2 separate regions of the Homo sapiens genome follow, and region 2 is linked to region 1. Evidence: fine-mapped QTL for protein levels in blood plasma. Region 1 holds a variant in brackets. A gene starts in the other region. All regions are shown on their forward strands.

What was found. PIP is the chance, under the fine-mapping model, that this variant and not a neighbour inherited with it causes the effect. The UK Biobank Pharma Proteomics Project read protein levels with antibody pairs (Olink). The fine-mapping took linkage between variants from a reference panel, not from the people measured, so its PIPs are less certain.
Region 2: SERPIND1 starts here. The variant in region 1 is fine-mapped to the plasma level of the SERPIND1 protein (UK Biobank, PIP above 0.99).

The regions. Positions count from the first base shown.
Region 1 is chr16:72,040,175-72,051,545 of GRCh38, forward strand. No RefSeq gene overlaps it. Among named protein-coding and RNA genes, the nearest start is that of HP, 8.6 kb to the right of the region's middle. The variant TG/T (reference allele first, on the strand shown) is at 4,916.
Region 2 is chr22:20,771,002-20,779,001 of GRCh38, forward strand. SERPIND1 (serpin family D member 1) reads left to right here and starts at 3,112. Exons shown (of 5, transcript NM_000185.4): 1 at 3,112-3,144. The region is part of intron 19 of PI4KA (phosphatidylinositol 4-kinase alpha); the gene reads right to left. RefSeq lists an enhancer at 6,800-7,094.

The DNA of each region.
Region 1 (11,371 bases):
TGATTTGCTAATATCATCTAACACTGAGTTCGTGTTCAAATTTCTCCTGTTGTATCCAAAATATCTTCCATATCCAATCAACGCTCATCCATATGCCTCTTTAGTTTCTTTTATTTCTTTTATTTTATTTTATTTATTTTTATTTTTTGAGACGGAGTCTCGCTCTGTTGCCCAGGCTGGAGTGCAGTGGAGCGATCTCGGCTCACTGCAAGCTCCGCCTCCTGCGTTCACGCCACTCTTCTGCCTCAGCCTCCCGAGTAGCTGGGACTACAGGCGCCTGCCACTACGCCTGGCTAATTTTTTGTATTTTTTAGTAGAGATGGGGTTTCACTGTGTTAGCCAGGATGGTCTTGATCTCCTGACCTCATGATCCACCAGCCTTGGCCTCCCAGAGTGCTGGGATTACAGGCATGAGCCACTGTGCCCGGCCTATTTTTTTTTTTTTTTTTTGAGAGGGAGTCTCACTCTGTTGCCCAGGCTGGAGTGCAATGCGCAATCTCTGCTCACTGCAACCTCCACCTCCTGGGTTCAAGCGATTCTCCTGCCTCAGCTTCCCGAGTAGCTGGGATTACAGGCGGCTGCCACCACACCCAGCTAATTTTTTTTGTATTTTTAGTAGAGACAGGGTTTCACCATGCTGGCCAGCTGGTCTCAAACTCCTGACCTCAGGTGATCCGCCCACCTTGGCCTGCCAAAGTGCTGGGATTACAGGCATTGAGCCACCGCACCCAGCTAGTTTCTTTTAATCTAGAACAGTAACCTCTCATGAGATCAGTCCAGTTATCTTGTAGATGGCTGTTTTAGTCTATTCTCATGCTGCTAATAAAGACATACCTGAGACTGGGTAATTTATAAAGGAAAGAGGTTTAATTGACTCACAGTTCAGCATGGCTGGGGAGTTCTCAGGAAACTTACAATCATGGTGGAAGGGGGAAGCAAACATGTTCTTCTTCACATGGCGGCAGACTGAGAAGTGCAGAGTGAAGGTCGGGGGAAAGCCCCTTATAAAACCATCAGATCTCATGAGAACTCACTATCATGAGAACAGCATGAGGATAACTGCCCCCTGATTCAATTACCTTCCACCAGGTCCCTTCCATGACATGTGGGGATTATGGGAACTACAATTCAAGATAAGATTTTGGTGGGGACACAGCCAAACCATATCAATGGTTCCATGTTCTGGATTCCCAGCATAAAGACATTTCCTGATTTCCAGTATAGTTGGATGTGGTCCAGTGACCAAGTTCTATTCAATGACATATATATGAAAGTATTGTGTGAAGTTTCTGGAAAGTCTGCTGCTGCCTGGAATATGGGTATGATGGCTGGAGCTCTGGCATCCATTTTAGACCTAAGGATCAGGGTCATTCTGCAGGGATGATGGAGGCAAAAGCTGGAAACAGCTTAATGCTGACACTAATACCAGCTCTGTCTGCCTACTTCCCTACCTCTTTTACTTGAGAAAACAGAACCTTGTGTATGTGTGTGTGTGTGTGTAATTAAAAATTAAAAAAAAATTTTTTAGACGAGGTCTCACTTGCTCTGTCACCCAGGCTGGAGTACACTGGCATGATCATGGCTCACTGCAGCCTCAATCTCCTGGGCTCAAGTGATCCTCCCACCTCAGCCTCCAGAGCATCTGGGACTACAGGTGTGTGCCACCACACCTGGCTAATTTTTGTATTTTTTGTAGGCATGGGGTTTCACTCTGTTGCCCAGGCTGGGACCTTGTGTGCTTTAATCCCTGTTAAGTCACTTAGTCAAATTTAATCCTAGCTAATAAAGAAGACAGATTGAGGTCTACTATAGTTTTATATTTGCTTGGAAGAGATGTTATGTGCTTACTACTTGGCTAAAACATGTTTCAGGATTTCTCTTTTTCCTCCAGGTACAGACCTCCGGTCCCAACACACCATAAGAACATTCTGAGATGATAATGTTACCTACCCTCTAGTCTGGGCCACCTATGATGTTGAATGAGTCTTGGCAGCCAGGGAAAATTTCTGTAAGAGCCTTGTGGTTAGACACATAGGAAATAAAGTCACTGTGGCTTGTCACATGCAAGAGGACAGCAGGGGACAGGGCATAGCGCTGTGTGTGCAGGAACAGTGTGGGAATGATCTGGAATTTGTGAAATACCTGGGCAGCAATACAAGGACGAGGCTCCAAAGGGCAGGGCTTCAGGAGAGGAAATGGATAAACACTGCACTTCTTGCATTACTGCCAGCCACAAAGAGGTTTCCTGAGTGCTGAAAACCCCATCTGGAAAGTGTCCCATAGGAAACAAAAGGAGTTACAGTGTGTGAAGGTCACTTGGCTGCTGCACCACCTGCCACCCCATTAATCACTTGAGTTGGTGGGTACAGGAACAAAGCTGTGGGCAGAGGGTCAGAACACTTCCTGTCTGCCCCAGGCACATGGAAGACATTCTCCTGAGTAGTAACCTTGGCACTGCCTTGGCTATTTGAGAAGCTGGCCAGTTACGTATTTCAGTCACTGGGTATTTGAGAAGCTGGCCAGTCTTTTGAGCTTCAACCATTCTCACAGATGTTGAATTTGCAGTTCTTAATGGATCTAGTGACACCTTCCTACCTCAGTAGAGCAAAAAATGTGGATCCCAGGTCTGGGAACCTAAAAGAAATCACTCTGAGTAGGTTAGAATTTCACCTCTATCTGAGACCCTGACAGAATCATTTAAAAATAAAAACACATATATACAAATATCTATACACACATAGGTGTGTGTGTGTGAATAGGGTGGCCCACCTTCATGTTCTTTTACTCCCTTGTTCTTCCAGTCATTCACTGAGATGCTGAGTTTTCCAGCATCTCTCAGTCTCTCAGAAGAACCGCCTGCCAGCATCCAGTGGGTCACATCCTACGACAAGCCCAGCACCTCTTCAGTGGAAGGGGATTTGCTTTGCGGCTTGGCAAGTTTATGCAAGTCCCTGATTTCTTGCACTGACTGCTGAAAAGCAGAGCTCCATTTAAATTCCATTCCTTCTGAAGATCTGTCCTATGACCAGGGTGCATGGTTCAACTCCTCTCTGCATCTGGCTGGCACCCAGGGCACTCTTGCCCAAATGCTTTGTCAGGTAGTTTACTTGATCTGTTTCCTAACGTGCTTCCCAGCCATGGTCCACATGGTTTCAGACTGCTCCAGGGCCCCCAAGGCCAACACAGGGGTCATGCTTGGAGAAAACCTTCAATTCTTTGCAGCCTCAGGCTTCTCCAGCCTTGGGTGCCAGTGCTTTAAGGTCCTCCTTATCCTCTTTGCTGGGCATCACTGCCTCAGTCATGGTTTAAATCTGATACACAAGGTTCTTAATGGGCCTCCATAGCCATGTACAATTGACACCCTTAGCCTGGCTAATGTGGTTAGCTAGCAAGTTTGTTATCCCTTCCAGGTAAGAAATGCCTTAACCCAGTGAAAGATCTGTCTCCAGATGACCCTTAAAAGTGACTCTAATGGTGAGCCCTTGATGCTGATTATGTGAGGGAATCTTTTTTATTTTATTTTTGAGACAGGGTCTTGATCTGTTGCCCAGGCTGGAGTACAGTGGCGCAATCAGAGCTCACTGCAGCCTCTCCCAGGCTCAAGTGATCCTCCCCACTCAGTCCCCTGAGTAGCTGGAACTATAGGTGCATACCACTATGCCTGGCTAACTTCTTATTTTTTTATTTTTGTAGAGATGGATCTCCCTATGTTGCCCAGGCTCACCTTGAACTCTTGGCTTCAAGCAATCCTCCAGCATGTCCTCCCAAGTGCTGGGATTATAGGCATGAGCCACTGTGCCCAGCACATGTGAGGGAGTCTTGAGAATTCTGTGTAGTTTGTCATGTGGGAGAGGTAGCACCCCAGGGTGGTCAAGGGCTTGGCCTGGGTTTGAATCCTGGCTCCTCTCTTTGCTAGCTGTGTTACCTTGAACAAGTTCCTTATCCTCTCTGTGCCCCATTTATAAAAAACGGGATTATTAGATAATAAAAAGACCCAATGCTTATGGGCTGTTGAAGAATTAAATGAGTAAATACACAGAAAGCACATAGCACAGTGCCTGGCACACAGAACCCTCCCAATGTTACCTGTTATTACTAGGAGTTGACTGGCTTTTCTCCTAAAGTACCTGCAGGGCTGGTTCTGCGGACAGCTTTTATGCTTCTGAGGGCTGGATCTTCTCCACTGCAGACAGAAGATGACAATACAGGCATTACTTACTCGTGTTACAGTTTTTATTTCTGCCCCTATTCTGAACTCTTTGAAGGCAGAGGCTATGTTTATCCCCCATTCAATTCAACCAACCGGACTGAGCCTCTGTTGTATGCCAGGCATTGCTGGGCCATGGAGATAAGGGTGAATGAAAAAACACCGACTTGGTCCTACCTTGTTTCCTGGGACCCATCCCACAAACGTGGTAGGTTGAAGAAATTAAGGAAGGTTGATATGAATTCTTTTGAATATAGAGTCAGTTTTTACACTCGTACTAATATCCTCATGCCTTTGACATCTGACCAGTTTCATGCTGGGAAAGGCAGCATTTCTTTGTAAGTTTTGACAGGCTGTGTGGGTTTCCCACCTTGGTTGGCTGTCTTTGCTGACAGGAAGCTGGTCTGAGGATAATATTTGATTTAGCAGCCTGGATCTTGGAAGTTCCTCATTTACAAACTGTCAGGGATGATCCTACTTTTAAGAAGCTCTTAAAAAGCTTAAAATATCAATGTGTATGGTACAAAATATCAATATGTGTGTCTGCCAGTGGCTCAGTTTTGGAGAAGAGAATTGCTGACCGTAAGGCAGTGCAACTGGGAAGCAATGCCTATGTTCCAGGCACCGTGGGACCCTGTAGCCCCTGGTCCTGGTGACTGTGAAAAAAAGGAGAAATTCTAGAAATAGGTGTAATCATGTGAATGTCTT[TG/T]TTTAATTTTCTTATCAAGATAAACTGCAATTCTGAACAACATGTGCTGTTCTGAATTCAACAGTCCACTCTCCATTCTGTTTGAAGGTCATGTATACTCTTGTGAAAATCCAGGGTTCTCATTTCATGGCTACTGAGGTATTTATTCCTATACTATTTAAATCAATTAAAAAATATCATTTACAATAACATAAACATCAAATGCTTAAGAATAAATCTAATGAAAGAGGTGCCAGAGGTCTGTATCAATATGAACAAGGCATTAAAATTAAAGACAGCCTAAATAAATGAAGAGAGATGCTACGTGCATTACTCGAAAGACTCAACAGAGTCAAGATGTCAACTCTCCCCAAAGTGATCTGGAGATTCAATGTAATCCCAATAAAAATCCCATCAGGACATTTTGTGAGAATTGGAAAGTTGATTTTAAAATTTACATAAAATGGAAAAGACCTAGAATAGTCAAGACAAACTCTGAAAGAAAATAAAGTTGGAACACTTATAATACCAGATAGCAAGATTTAGTATAAAGTTCCCATTATTGGCCAGGTGTGGAGGCTCATGCCTGTAATGCCAGCACTTTAGGAAGCTGAGGTGGGTGGATCACTTGAGCCCAAGAGTTCAAGTCCAGCCTGGTCAACATGGCAAAACCACATCTCTACAACTACAACAACAACAAGTTGGCTGTGTGTGGTTGCGCATACCTGTAGTCTCAGTTACCTGTGAGGCTGAGGTGGGAGGATTGTTGGAGATCATTGTTGAGGCTGCAGATTGTGTCCCTGCACTCCTGCCTGGGGGACAGTGAGACCCTGTCTCAAAAAAAGTTCCCATTTGTGAACCCCCAAAATTTGAGACAGGTTTCGGTTAATTTAGAAAGCTTATTTTGCCAAGGTTGAGGACGCACACCCAACACAACCTCAGGAGGTCCTGATATATGTCCAAGGCGGTCAGAGCACAGTTTGGTTTTATACATTTTAGGGAGACCTGAGACATCAATCAACATACGTAAGATGAACACTGGTTCCGTCCGCAGAGGCGGGACAAGTCTCAAAGCCAGGAGGGGGCTTCCAGGTCATAGGTAGATAAGAGACAAATGGTTACATTCTTTTGAGGTTCTGATGAGCCTCTCCAAAAGAGGCAAAAGGATATGCATTTATCTCAGTGAGCAGAGGGGTGGCATTGAATAGAATGGGAGGCAGGTTTGCCCTAAGCAGTTCTCTGCTTCACTTTTCCCTTTAGCTTAGTGATTCTGGGGGTTTAAGATAGTTTCCTTTCACACATTATTATTATTATTATTATTATTATTATTTATTTTTTTATTTTTATTTTTTGAGACAGAATCTCGTTCTGTCGCCCAGGCTGGAGTGCAGTGGCGCGATCTCAGCTCACTGCAACTTCCGCCTTCCGGGTTCAAGCGATTCCCCTGCCTCAGCCTCCGAGTAGCTGGGACTACAGGCGCCCGCCACCATGCCCAGCTAATTTTTTGTACTTTAGTAGGGATGGGGTTTCACCATGTTGGCCAGAATGATCTCGATCTCCTGACCTCGTGATCCACCCGCCTCGGCCTCCCAAAATGCTGGGATTACAGGCGTGAGCCACCGCACCCAACCTCCTTTCACACATTATTAAGACAGTATGACAATGGCTCCAGATTAGACAAATAGACTAATGGAAAAGAATAGAGGATTCAGGAGGAGGCCAACACATATATAATCACCTGATGTATAATAAAGATACCACTGGAATTCAGGGACAAAGGATGGTCATTTTAGCAAATAATACTGGATCGATTGCATGCCTATATGGAAAAAATGAACTTTTCTCTCACATCCTATACCAACATTAATTCCAAATGGATCATAGACCTAGATTTGAAAGGTAAAACAATACACTTTTAGAAAAACATATAGGAGAATATTGTCACAACCTTGTAGGCAAAAATTTCTTAATCAGAACACAGAAATCACTAACTATGAAATTTAAAAAACTGACAAATTAGGACTTATTTAAGATTAAGAACTTCTGTACTTCTGTTCATCAAAATACAAGATTAAAAGAATTAAAGGACAAACCATGGAATGGGAGAACATGTTTACAATACATTTATCCAAAAAAAGACTAGTATTCAGAATATTTTAGAAAAAGACAACAAATCTACAAGGAGAAGACATACTGTAAAGAGGATATCTAAGTGGTCCAACACAAATCTAAAAAGTGGTCTACATCATTTGATATTGGGGAAATGCAAAATTAAAGCCATTATTATTATTTTTATTTATTTATTTATTTTTTGAGATGGAGTCTTGCTCTTTCCCCCAGGCTGAAGTGCAGTGGTGCGATCTCAGTTCACTGCAACCTCTGCCCCCAGGTTCAAACGATTCTCCTGCCTCAGTCTCCTGAGTAGCTGGGACTACAGGCCCATGCCACCACACCCGGCTGATTTTTGTATTTTTAGTAGAGACGGGGTTTCGCTGTGTTGGCCAGGCTGGTCTCGAACTCCTGACCTCAGGTGATCCACCTGCCTTGGCCTCCCAAAGTGCTAGGATTACAGGCGTGAGCCACTGTGCCTGGCCTCCATTATTATGTTTTACTACACATATGCAGAATGGCAAAACTTAAAAAGTATTGGCAAGGATGCAGAGCAACTGGAACTTTGATATACTGATGATAGGAGAGTTTATTGAAAAACTGGTAGAATCTATTAAAGCTAGACATATGCCTACCCTATGACAAAACCAGGTACGTATCCAAGAGAAATGAATGCAGGTAACCACCAAACAATATATGCAAGAATGTTCATAGCAGCTTGGTTTGCAGTAGCCCCCGGATGGAATCAATCCACACATCCATCTACAGGAGAATGGATAAATCAATTGTGCTTTAGTCACACAATGGAATACTTCTCAGCAATAAAAAAAGAAACTAATGTGACAACATGGATGTTTCTCACAGACATTATGTTGAAAAAACAAGCCAGAAACCAAGAATGCCTACTATTTGATTCTATTTATACAAAGTTCAGGACCAGGCAAAAGTATTCCATCATGACAGATGTCAGGACAGTGGTTACTTTGGTAGGGGTGGGGTGTGGGCTGAGAGGAACCCAAAGGAGTTTTCTGGGGTGCTAGAAATATTTCATACTATAAAGATTCATTGAGATGAACACTTAAGGTTTGGTATTTTTAGTAAATGATGCTGGATCAATTGTACATCCAAATGGAGTAAAATGAGTGTGGTCTCCTTACCTCACTTCCCTGTGTGTATGCAAGCTATTTATAACAGTAAAATTAAAGTACATGTGATACCTCCTTAAGTTAGGAGTATAATATAGCATTTAAGATTTTTTTTTTTTTTTTTTTTTTTGAGACAGAGTCTCGCTCTGTCACCCAGGCTGGAGTGCAGTGGCGCGATCTTGGCTCACTGCAACCTCCGCCCCCCAGGTTCAAGTGATTCTCCTGCCTCAGCCTCCTGAGTAGCTGGGATTACAGGCGCACGCCATCACACCTGGCTAATTTTTGTATTTTTAGTAGGATGGGGTTTCACCATGTTGGTCAGCCTGGTCTCAAACTCCTGACCTCGTGATCTGCCTGCCACGGCCTCCCAAAGTGCTGGGATTACAGGTGTGAGCCACCGTGCCTGGCCTAAAATGTTTTAAGAGTTTTCTACAACATGGAAAATGCCTACAACATTGGGTGATGTAGAAAGCAAAAAGTTCCTCTTCAAAATTTCCCTTCTTGTTAAAGAATAAATCATAAGTGTTAGAGATAATAGTTTCTTTTAAAAACTAACTTCCTTCAAACTTCCTTGCTTTGTGCTAATAACTCTTTGTTAAGCCCTATCCTATGTAGTTATTAAATGTAAGAAAATTAAATACATTCTATGTCCCTGTACTTTAACCAAGATATCTGTGCTAGACCTGTGCACAGGCATGTCACAGCTTGCAGCCTATGCCCCTTCCTTATTTGGGAATGTTATTACTTTTCTGAGTCTTTTCATAAGCAACTTCCTCTTTTCCTTTCTTCTCCTCTGCCATTACCTCTTTAGAAAAAGTTTTAAACCTTTAGCCAACTGGGTGCTGCCTAGACTGTCAGGTCCAGTTCCAGCCAATGGAATCAGGACACAGCAGTAGGGTCTGGATGGGTCAGATATAAATGTTTTGTACCTCCTTTGTTCAAGTGTGCTCTTGTCTTTGTTCCATCTGTGATGGGCACCCTTTCTGCAGAAAGTAAAAATTGCCTTGCTGAGAGAATTAAATTTATGTTCAAGTGCTATTTCTTTATGGCACTGGGGAACAAGCATTTTGCATTTCTAACAGATGAAAAGGTTAGGCCAAAAAATTCTATATAAAGAATGATCAAAATTGTGTAAAAGTATGCACAGAGAAAATCTGAAAGGAAGTAACACTAAAATGTTAATAGTGGTTATTGGTTGTCTTGAGGTGGTGAAATTATCGGAGACTTATTTCTTATTTTTATTTTTTGGTAGCTTATAAAATTTCAAGACTTTTGTAATGGCAGAGTAAACTTTTTGTTTTTTTGAGACAGGGTCTCACTGTCACCCAGGCTGAAGTGCAGTGGCATGATCATAGCTCACTACAGCCTCAACTCCCAGGTGCAAGCAATCCTCCCACCTCAGCCTCCAGAGTAGCTGGGACTACAGGCATGTGCCACTGTTCTTGGATAATTTTTTACGTATTTTCTGTAGAGACGGAGTTTTACCATGTTGCCCATTTTATTCCATATGGTCTCCAACTCTTGGGCTCAAGCAATCGACCCGCCTTGGCCTCCCAAAGCACTGGGATTACAGGCATGAGCCACTATGCCTGGCTGGCAGAGTGAACTTTTAAAAATCATATTTTCCTTCTAAAATCAAAACTCTCCCCTTCAAGCTCCTCTGTCAACTGCTGTCCTGGCCTATTAATATTTCAAGCTTTCCTGCTTTCTATTCTCCCAAGAAAATATATGCCTACTTTCCTTGGTGGAGTCTTCTGACTTGCTATCTCCCATCTTGACTTGTCCAGTGATAGAGAGAAGCCTTTTGGGCTGGATTCTGTTTCTCCTCAAGTTAATGAAAGATGCCCAGGGCAGGAAGGCTGTGTGTGAATGCTCCCCTGTTGCCCAAGACAAGGGGTCAGAGTAATAGAGTTCAGGGTATGTTCAGAGGAGGAACGTGAATTTTCACGTACCTGGTGAGTAAACAATTGTTCTACAAAAGTGGTGAGAAATGTTTCATTTTAGACACCCTAGGAGGGCACCAGTCTGAGGAGGAAGTCTCTCCCTCCATTTCATAGGACCAGCATTCTCCCCACTTCCCTGAGGACCCACAGAGCTGCAGAAATAGAGGCCATCTCTTCCCTCTGTGGAAAAGTAGCAGCAACTGGACAGAAAAGAAAAAAGAAGCCTGGGGCTGTGACATTTGCAAGACTCTAGATAGAGGACTGTGAGAGGCTGAGATTTGACAGTTTCTGTGGGGAGGGATGATGGACTGGATGAGGTGGGAGGGGGAGGAGGGCATGAGGATGCCATAGGACAGAAGTGCTCCAGGTTTAGTGGAATCCTTCACAGTCTACAGTGCGGGTTCTCTTTGGAAAACGTAGGGTGTAGCTCCCTCCTTCTGGCCATTGAAGGAAGACCTGGGTGGCAAAGCACAGGTAAAGACAAGCTGTGACAGAGGATAGCAGGAACCCAGGGACCTAGGGAGCAGAATTCTAACACCTTCACCCCAGATTCAGCCAGAGCAGCTCCATTTCCATCATTGCACACACCAGTTCTACTGGTTAACATCTGCTACCTATGAGTGTTCCTCACGCTTTGTAGCTTAGGACAGTCATCTTCTATTTAGCTTATGATTCTGTGGGTCAGCAATGTGGGCTGGGCTTAGCTGGAGGTGGTTTTGGTCAGGATCAGTTTCAGCTGATCTTGGCAGGAGCTCACTCATGCATCTGTGGAGGACTTCTGGAAATTTGGGGCTGGCTGTCTGTCAGCTGGAATGCCTGGGTTCCACTCTATGGGGACCTTTCATTCTCCAGCAATGGAGGAATAACTTGGGCTCATTCACAGGGTAGCCCCCAGATTCCGGGTGCTGTAAAAGCAGTCAAACCCCAATTCACAAGCATGTTTCAAGACTATCCTTGTTACATCTGCTACTATTTCAACATAGTCACAGAGCCAACCCCAGATTCCAGGGGTGGAGAAATGGGCTCCTACTTATGACTGAAGAGCTGCAGTCTATTGCCTCATACCTGCAGGGCTGGGGAGAAGTTATGGACGCTTGAAATGTAGATTCTCACATCCCCACACACACCTGTTGGATCCAATTCATGGAAAAGGGGCCTCTCACTATGTCCTTCGGGTGACTCCCTCCTCCTTAATATTTTAAAATATTTTATTTGATACTTATAATATATTATATGTGACATATATGTGTGGGCATATATGTGTTTTATTAAAAATAAA
Region 2 (8,000 bases), not on the chromosome of region 1:
AGACCCCGCTTTTTTCTAACTAAAAAAATTTTTTTCCAAGTTGGAAAAAATATCTAGCCATAAGACAAACCTTGAAACTGCAAAAGAACAATGGAGTATGTGTGACAGGAGGTACTGCTCTACAGTGGGGTTAAAGCCATACACAAGCTGTGGTGGCTCACGCCTGTAATCCCAGCACTTTGGGAGGCCGATGCGGGCGGATCATGAGGTTAGGAGTTCAAGACCAGCCTGGCCAGCATGGTGAAACCCGTCTCTACTAAAAATACAAAACATTAGCCAGACGTGGTGGTGGGCACCTGTAGTCCCAGCTACTAGGGAGGCTGAGGCAGGAGAATGGCGTGAACCCAGGAGGCGGAGCTTGCAGTGAGCTGAGATTGCGCCACTGCACTCCAGCCTGGGCGACAGAGCGAGACTCTGTCTCAAAAAAAAAAAAGCCATACACAAGCTGTTACCACTAAATGGGAAAATGACTGAAAAATGTCAATGTCAAGAGGGACTGAAATCAAATTTTTCCAATAGTGGGTTACATGATCAGAAATCCAAATAGACAGGAAATATGTTGGCTTTATTTATTTATTTATTTATTTATTTATTTATTTAGACAGAGTCTCACTCTGTCACCCAGGCTGGAGTACAGTGGCATGAACTCGGCTCACTGCAACCTTCACCTCCCAGGTTCAAGCGATTGTCCTGCCTCAGCCTCCCGAGTAGCTGGGACTACAGATGTGTGCCACCACACCCAGCTAATTTTTGTATTTTTAGTAGGGACGGGGTTTTACCATGTTGGTCAGGCTGGTCTTGAACTCCTGACCTCAAGTGATCCACCCGCCTTGGCCTCTCAAAGTGCTGGGATTACAGGTGTGAGCCACCACACCTGGCCGGTACTGGCTTTAAAAATAACAAAAGTAATACATACACATAGAAAAAGGTCAAACAAAGAAGTACATAGAATGAAAAATGAATGCTGTGTCCCCTCCCAGACCATTTCTGTGAATAAATATGTAATACCATGAAATGATGAGGACTAACATTTTCTGAATGCCAGGCACCACTCTATGTGCTTTCCACACATTCATTAACCTCATTTAATTTTCTCATTTAATTAATGAGATAAATTAATGTATCTCATTTAATTTTCACAACAACCTCATGCAGTAGGTGTAACTGTCACCCTCATTTCAGAGAGCAGAATACTGAGAGCTGGAGGCCAAGGGGCAATTTCAGCCAGGGTGGCTGGTGACGCCTCGGTGAAACCAAGAGCGAACAGTGAGAGCAGCGGCCACCTGCTGGTCTGCAGGGATGGTGTCCTGGGCAGAAAGAATAGCAAGTGCCAGGGCTGTGCTGGGGCCGGGCTTTGCATGTGTGAGAACAAGACAGAGAATGAGGGAGGTGGGCCCACGAGGAGTGTGGGCACAGACAGCAGCCTCTGCCTGTGGTGCCACGCTGAAGACTCAGTATTGTATGTGACAGATGAAGGCTCTAAGAAGACAGCTCTGACAAAAGCTAGAGTGCAAAATCAGACTCAGACACAACCACCGGTCTGTGTCCTGAACACAATGGACCTTTACACTCTGGAATTTCTCAAACGGAGCAATGCACAGACACCCCCATGGGCCCCTTGCACACCCGCAGATTCTCCTAGGAGTCACATTCTCTCTTCAGATAGACTCTGGGTGCCGACACTCCCAAACATGCTCTTGAGGAGCAGTCTCTGTGATAAGCTGATCTTCCAGACAATCCAGAATATTCTTAAAACTTTTTAGATCATAAAATTTAAAACACAAATTAAAAAACAAATTATCATAAGGCCGGGCACAGTGACTCATGCCTGTAATCCCAGCACTTTGCAAGGCTGAAGCAGGAGGATCACTTGAGCCCAAGAGTTCAAGACCAGCCTAGGCAACATAGTGAGACCCTGTCTCTACAAAAAAGTCAAAAGTTAGCTAGACATGGTGGTGTGCACCTGTATTCCCAGCTACTTGCAGGGCTGAGGTGAGGAGGATTGCTTCAGCTCGGGAGGTTGAGGCTGCAGTGAGCCAAGATCACGCCACTGCACTCCAGCCTGGGTAACAGAGTGAGACCCTGTCTCAAAAAACACATAGGGCCAGGCGTGGTGGCTCACGCATGTAATCCCAGCACTTTGGGAGGCCGAGACGGGAGGATCACTTCACTCCAGGAGTTCAACACCAGCCTGGCCAACATAGTGAAACCCCGTCTCTACTAAAAATACAAAAAATTAGTTGGACATGGTGGTGTGCGCCTGTAATCTCAGCCACTCAGGAGGCTGAGGCAGGAGAACGCTTGAACTTGGGAGACAGAGGTTGCAGTGAGCTGAGATCGCACCACTGCACTCCAGCATGGGCAGCAGCGCGAAACTCTGTCTCAAAACAAACAAACAAACAAACAAACACCCATAAACACAAAATGTATCACAGCCTCAGAGATCCCCACGAATGCCTAAGTGGCCCTGAATTTGGGAGGCACTGCTCAGTAATAGTCCTATCTGTCCCACAACAGACAGGAGTGCTGGGCTGCACCTACTGGCAACAAACACAGCAACCCTTGACTGAAGAAAGGTCCATGCCACAATCCCCTTATTCTGTAAGCCACTAATTTTGTCCTCTCTCCTCCACCTTTCACTGAGGAACGAGCTCTTGGAAGGACAGGGACACCCGCCTAGTAGCTGAGCCAGCCACATCAGTCCTGGAGAGCAGGTGGAGGGCAGATGCTGTGATCATCCCAGAAGAGAGGACACAGTTGGAGGCAGATGCATGGTCTCTACTTTCAGCTACCCTCAATGCAGCCTGGTCCCCAGAGGCCTGAAGAGCGCCTTGTTTATGTGGTGACCTCAAGAGGGGCTGCTCCTGCACCAAGGCTATGTGTGCATGCTAACACAGTAACCGTCATATACTCAAAGTGTCAGCTCTAAGAACTGGAGATGAGGAGCTGCAAGCCACTCTACAGTTATCAAAGGCACAGCTGAGGGGGTTTGTGCTGACCAAGCTGGTTGCCTGGTGTTTGGATTGGGACTTATTTACTTTGGAAAATATGCAGCAACAGCCCAGCACCAAAGTTCACATCAAAATCCCACTGATGACCTTGGCTGCTTTCATCTCTGAAGCGCCACTTCTCAGAAACACAGAGGTAAGTTGGGTTTCTAATGTTTCTGCTGATTATAAATTATTTTTGGTGTTTACGGATAGGCAACTGGTTCATTTTTCTAGCAAACTAAGAATTCAGAAGCTTTCTACACTGTTTTAGAAGTGGGAAATGGTTTCATTTTTCAGTGTGCCTATTATAAAATTGTGTCAGTTCCATTGTTGGGAGAGTTGACAAACTTAGAATAGGAGCTGTGGAATAGATGAAAATATTGTACTTATATTAAATTAATCGAATTGGATAACTGTCCTGTGATTATGTATGAGAATATCCTTGCTCTTGGGTATTTTCCCTGAAGTATTAGTATTAAAGGTTAGAGGGGCCGGGTGCAGTGGCTCACGCCTGTAATCCCAACACTTTGGGAGGCCGAGGCGGGTGGATCACGAGGTCAGGAGTTCAAGACCAGCCTGACCAACATGGTGAAGCCAAGTCTCTACTAAAAATACAAAAATTAGCTGGGCGTGGTGGCACGCGCCTGTAATCCCAGCTACTCAGGAGGCTGAGGCAGGAGAATCGCTTAAACCCGGGAGGCAGAGGTTGCAGTGAGCGGAGATCGTGCCACTGCACTCCAGCCTGGACAACAGAGTTAGACTCCGTCAAAAAAAAAAAAAAAAAGAAGAAAAAAGAAAAAATGTTAGAGGAACAAGATATAGGAGACCTACTCTCAAATGGTCTAGAAGAAAAAATGTGTATGTGCATGCCTGTGAGAACACACACGTACGTACACACACACACAGATAATGACAGGGCAAAGGTTCCAAAATTTTAAACCTGGTAAATCTCGGTACGGGTATACAGGAGTTGTTCTACTACACTATTCTTTCAACATTTTTGGAAGTTTGAACTTACTTCAAAATAAAAAGTTTTCCAAACTTTAGGCAGTTACTTCTCTCCCATTCTGCCTGCTCTGTTGGGCCTGGAGACCATACACCAGGAGGGATGACGGTTTATCAAGTGTTATGCTCTGATGCGTGACTGAAAAGGCCAACCCAGCTCTGGCAATTAGCAAGAAAGCACAATATGAAGTTCCCAGGAAAAAAAAAAAGCAAAACAAACTTTTGAATGATTTATCTTTAAAATATATTGTTTCTCTTCAAACAGTAATCTGGATTTAATCACAACCTAGTGATAGTTTTTAAACGTCTTCTACAATGTTTGTTATACTAAATAGCAAAACATCAGGAAGATTTACCTTCAGATCTTTAATTTCAATCCATAAAAGATATCAGAGATATTTTCTCCTTCCTCTGGTAAGGGAATGACGAAAACTATTTTTGGCTTTTTATCAGATAATGTGGGAACAGGGTATAAGAAGTTTCCAAATATAACTTCTGAATACCGGGATAAAACATGCATGTCTTTACTCTGCCACTCTATCTGGCCTCAGATACGTTTTCCTGAATGCTTATTTATTCAAGTTGGTTTTTGTTTTGTTCTTTAACCTTATTTTTATCTGAGAAGAAAACATTTTCCCCCTTTGTTCCTTCTTCTTTTGGCTTTCTTTTTTAAAATAGAGATGAGGTCTTGCTATGTTGCTCCAGCTGGTCTTGAACTCCTGGGCTCAAGCGATCCTCCTGCCTTGGCCTCCCAAGATGCTAAGATTACAGGTGTGAGCCCCTATGCCTGGTCTTCTTCTTCTTGATCTTAGCCAAAAGGCCAAGAAGTGATAAGAGGAGGACACTTGAAGTGTAGTTGGGCAAGGAGCCTTCTACCAGCTGCTTACTTTCTTTGTTCCTGACTTTTAAAAGTGTGTTGCTATTGATACACAGTCTCCTGATATGTAAAATGCTGGGAGGATGAAGCTAAGTTACTCAAAGTGCCATTCAGAAACTGGGCCCAGTTCTATTTGCAGCTACATACATTAGAAATCATTTCTAGAGGCTGAGCATGGTAACTCATACCTGTAATTCCAGCACTTTGGGAGGCCAAGGCAGGAGAATTGCCTGAGCTCAGGAGTTTGAGACCTGTCTGGGCAACATGGTAAAACCCCATCTTTACCAAAAACACAAAAAATTAACTGGGTTTGGTGGCACACACCTGTGGTCCCAGCTACTTCAAAAGGCTGAGGTGGGAGGGTCTCTTGAGCCTGAGAGGAACAGGTGGCAGTGAACCAATATTGTGCCACTGCACTCCAGCCTGGGTGACAGAGTGAGACCCCGCCGTCTCAAAATAAAAATAAAAAGAAATCGTTTCTAGAAACTGTTTTCCCGTGTGTAAACTAGTGGCACTGCAGCCTGAGGCAGGTGCTGAGATGGGGACCTGGAAAAGGCAACAGGCATTTTGAGTCAGAAACAATGTGACTTTCCTGCTCCAAAATGTGCAATTCAAAAGTCTTTCTTAGTTGTGACTAAAACAAACTTTGAACTTACTATTTCAACAGTATTATAAGGGGAAGACCCAAGGAATGGGACTGGCACTGGGAAAACAGCTAGGAAGCTGCTCTGCACGGCCAGGGAGTCTGGAAGCATCCTGGTACTCCAGAGCGAACAAGGCTGAGCGCTTGATGTGGGGCTTAGAGGCTTAACCAACTTGGTTCGAATCTAGCCACTGCCACTTATTAGTGACAGTGACGAAAGGCTCAGTCTCCTGATATATAAAATGTTGGGAGGATGAAACTAAGTTACACGAAGTGCCTTATACAGCGTGTCAGGCATCCAACAGAGGCCATTATCAACATTAACCACACTGACAGCATTTCAAGCAGAGTATCCGAACAGTTACCCCATCTTCAGGCCTACTGAGTTCAAATATTTGCTTAACAAGAGCAGCCAGTAACTCTTACCTGGCCTCAACTGGCAGCAGATATTCTGGGCCTCAAATATCTATCTAATAGGAAATGGTCACAGACACAAAATAAGCTTAACAAAAGGCAGTTTTTTTTTGTTTTTTTTTTGTTTTCTGTTTTTTGAGATAAGGACTCACTCTATCCCCCAGGTTGGAGTGCAGTAGTGGCGTGATCACGGCTCACTGCAGACTCAAGTGATCCTCCTACTTCAGCCTCTCAAGTAGATGGGACCACAGGCGTGTGCCATCACACCAGGCTAATTATTTTTCTTTTCTTTTTTTTTTTTTTGAGACGGAGTTTCGCTCTTTTTGCCCAGGCTGGAGTGCAATGGTGCGATCTTGGCTCACCACAACCTCTGCCTCCTGAATTCAAACGAATCTCCTGCCTCAGCCTCCTAAGTATCTGGGATTACAGGCATGCGCCACCACGCCGGCTAATTTTTTTGTATTTTTTGTAGAGACAGGGTTTCTCCATGTTGGCCAGGCTGGTCTCGAACTCCCGACCTCAGATGATCCGCCCACCTCGGCCTCCCAAAGTGCTGGGATTACTGACCTGAGCCACCGCACCCAGCCTATTTATTTAATTTTTCACAGAGATGAGGTCTTGCTATGTTGCCCACACTGGTCTTGAGCTCCTGGGCTCAAGTGATCTTCCTGCCTTGGTCTCCCAGTGTTGGGATTATAGGCGTAAGCCACAGCGCCTGGCCGGCAGTTCTTTCTGGGGTGATTAGAAGTTGGGACCATGTATTACCTGTCTGAGTCAGCATTATAAACACCTATGGTCACTGTCCTGGCAAAACATGGAATCATCAAAGCTCATCTAACCAGAGTGCAGTTAATAACCAGGAAGTAAGCAAGAGAAAGACAAAGGATTTGGCAGTCAAAACAGATTTGACAGGCCAAGTCAGATCCTCCTCTGAACGAGTCAGAGGAACAAATAAAGACAGGATTGCCATAATGCCTCTGTGCTAAAAGCTTATCTTGTTTACTTAAATAAAGGGAGTGCCCCTCAGGTCTTGAGTAAGAGCTTGCTGACATCACCCTCACACAGACTTTATCTCTTGTTTCTAACCCTGTGTTAGAAGCAGTAACACAGAAGATTTAGTTGCTCCTGACAGCAGTGGGAGCTATTGTCTAAGAGATACAAAGGAGAAAAAAGTATACCTGCAGCAAGTGATATCACCTCTGGGGCTGCCACCACATCACCTCACTACGCCCTGAGGGGGTCTCAGCACTAGACAAGTTCCAAATCTTTTGCAAATTAAACAACCCCAGGTCAGGCGTGGTGGCTTATGCCTGTAATCCCAGCACTTTGGGGGGCTGAGGTGGGTGGATCACCTGAGGTCAGGAGTTTGAGACCAGCCTGGCCAACAGAGCAAAACCCCATCTCTACTAAACAAAATACAAAAATTAACCAGGCGTAGTGGTGTGCACCTGTAGTCCCAGCTACTTGGGAGGCTGAGGCAAGAGAATTGCTTGAGTCCAGGAGGCCGAAGTTGCAGTAAGCCGAGATCGCGCCACTGCACTCCAGCCTGGGTGACAGAGTGAGACTCCATTTCAAAAAATAAAAACAACAAAAGCCAATTACAACAACAACAACAAAAAAACAACGAATTAAACAACCCCAAAGATTGCACAAATTTCAAGTATCTTTAGAATATGTTTTCAGAAAGCCTGGCCCATGGACATTTTTCAACAGCATCTCCATTGCAAAGGTGGAATGGTGTGAGTCACACAGGCATGGCTGAGTCCCACTAATGCACATCCCTTCTAGGTACTCTCCAATCACCAGCCCCAGGTGCCCACTCAAGCCCAGCTCTTAGTGAGGTTTCCCTGACTCTCTGGGCACTTCCACTCCTACCACACAGGGTAGAGCCACACCCCTTTCCGTACCCCCATGTGCTCTGGCAGCATTATTTTGAGAGCCTTCGCTTTACTGCACGTCTGTCCCATCTGTCCCCTGACTGGTCCATGAGCCCCTGGTGGGAACTTTGTCTCTGGTAACTAAACACTGTCTGGAGGTGGTGGACAAGGTGTCTGGAGAAAAACAAACTCCT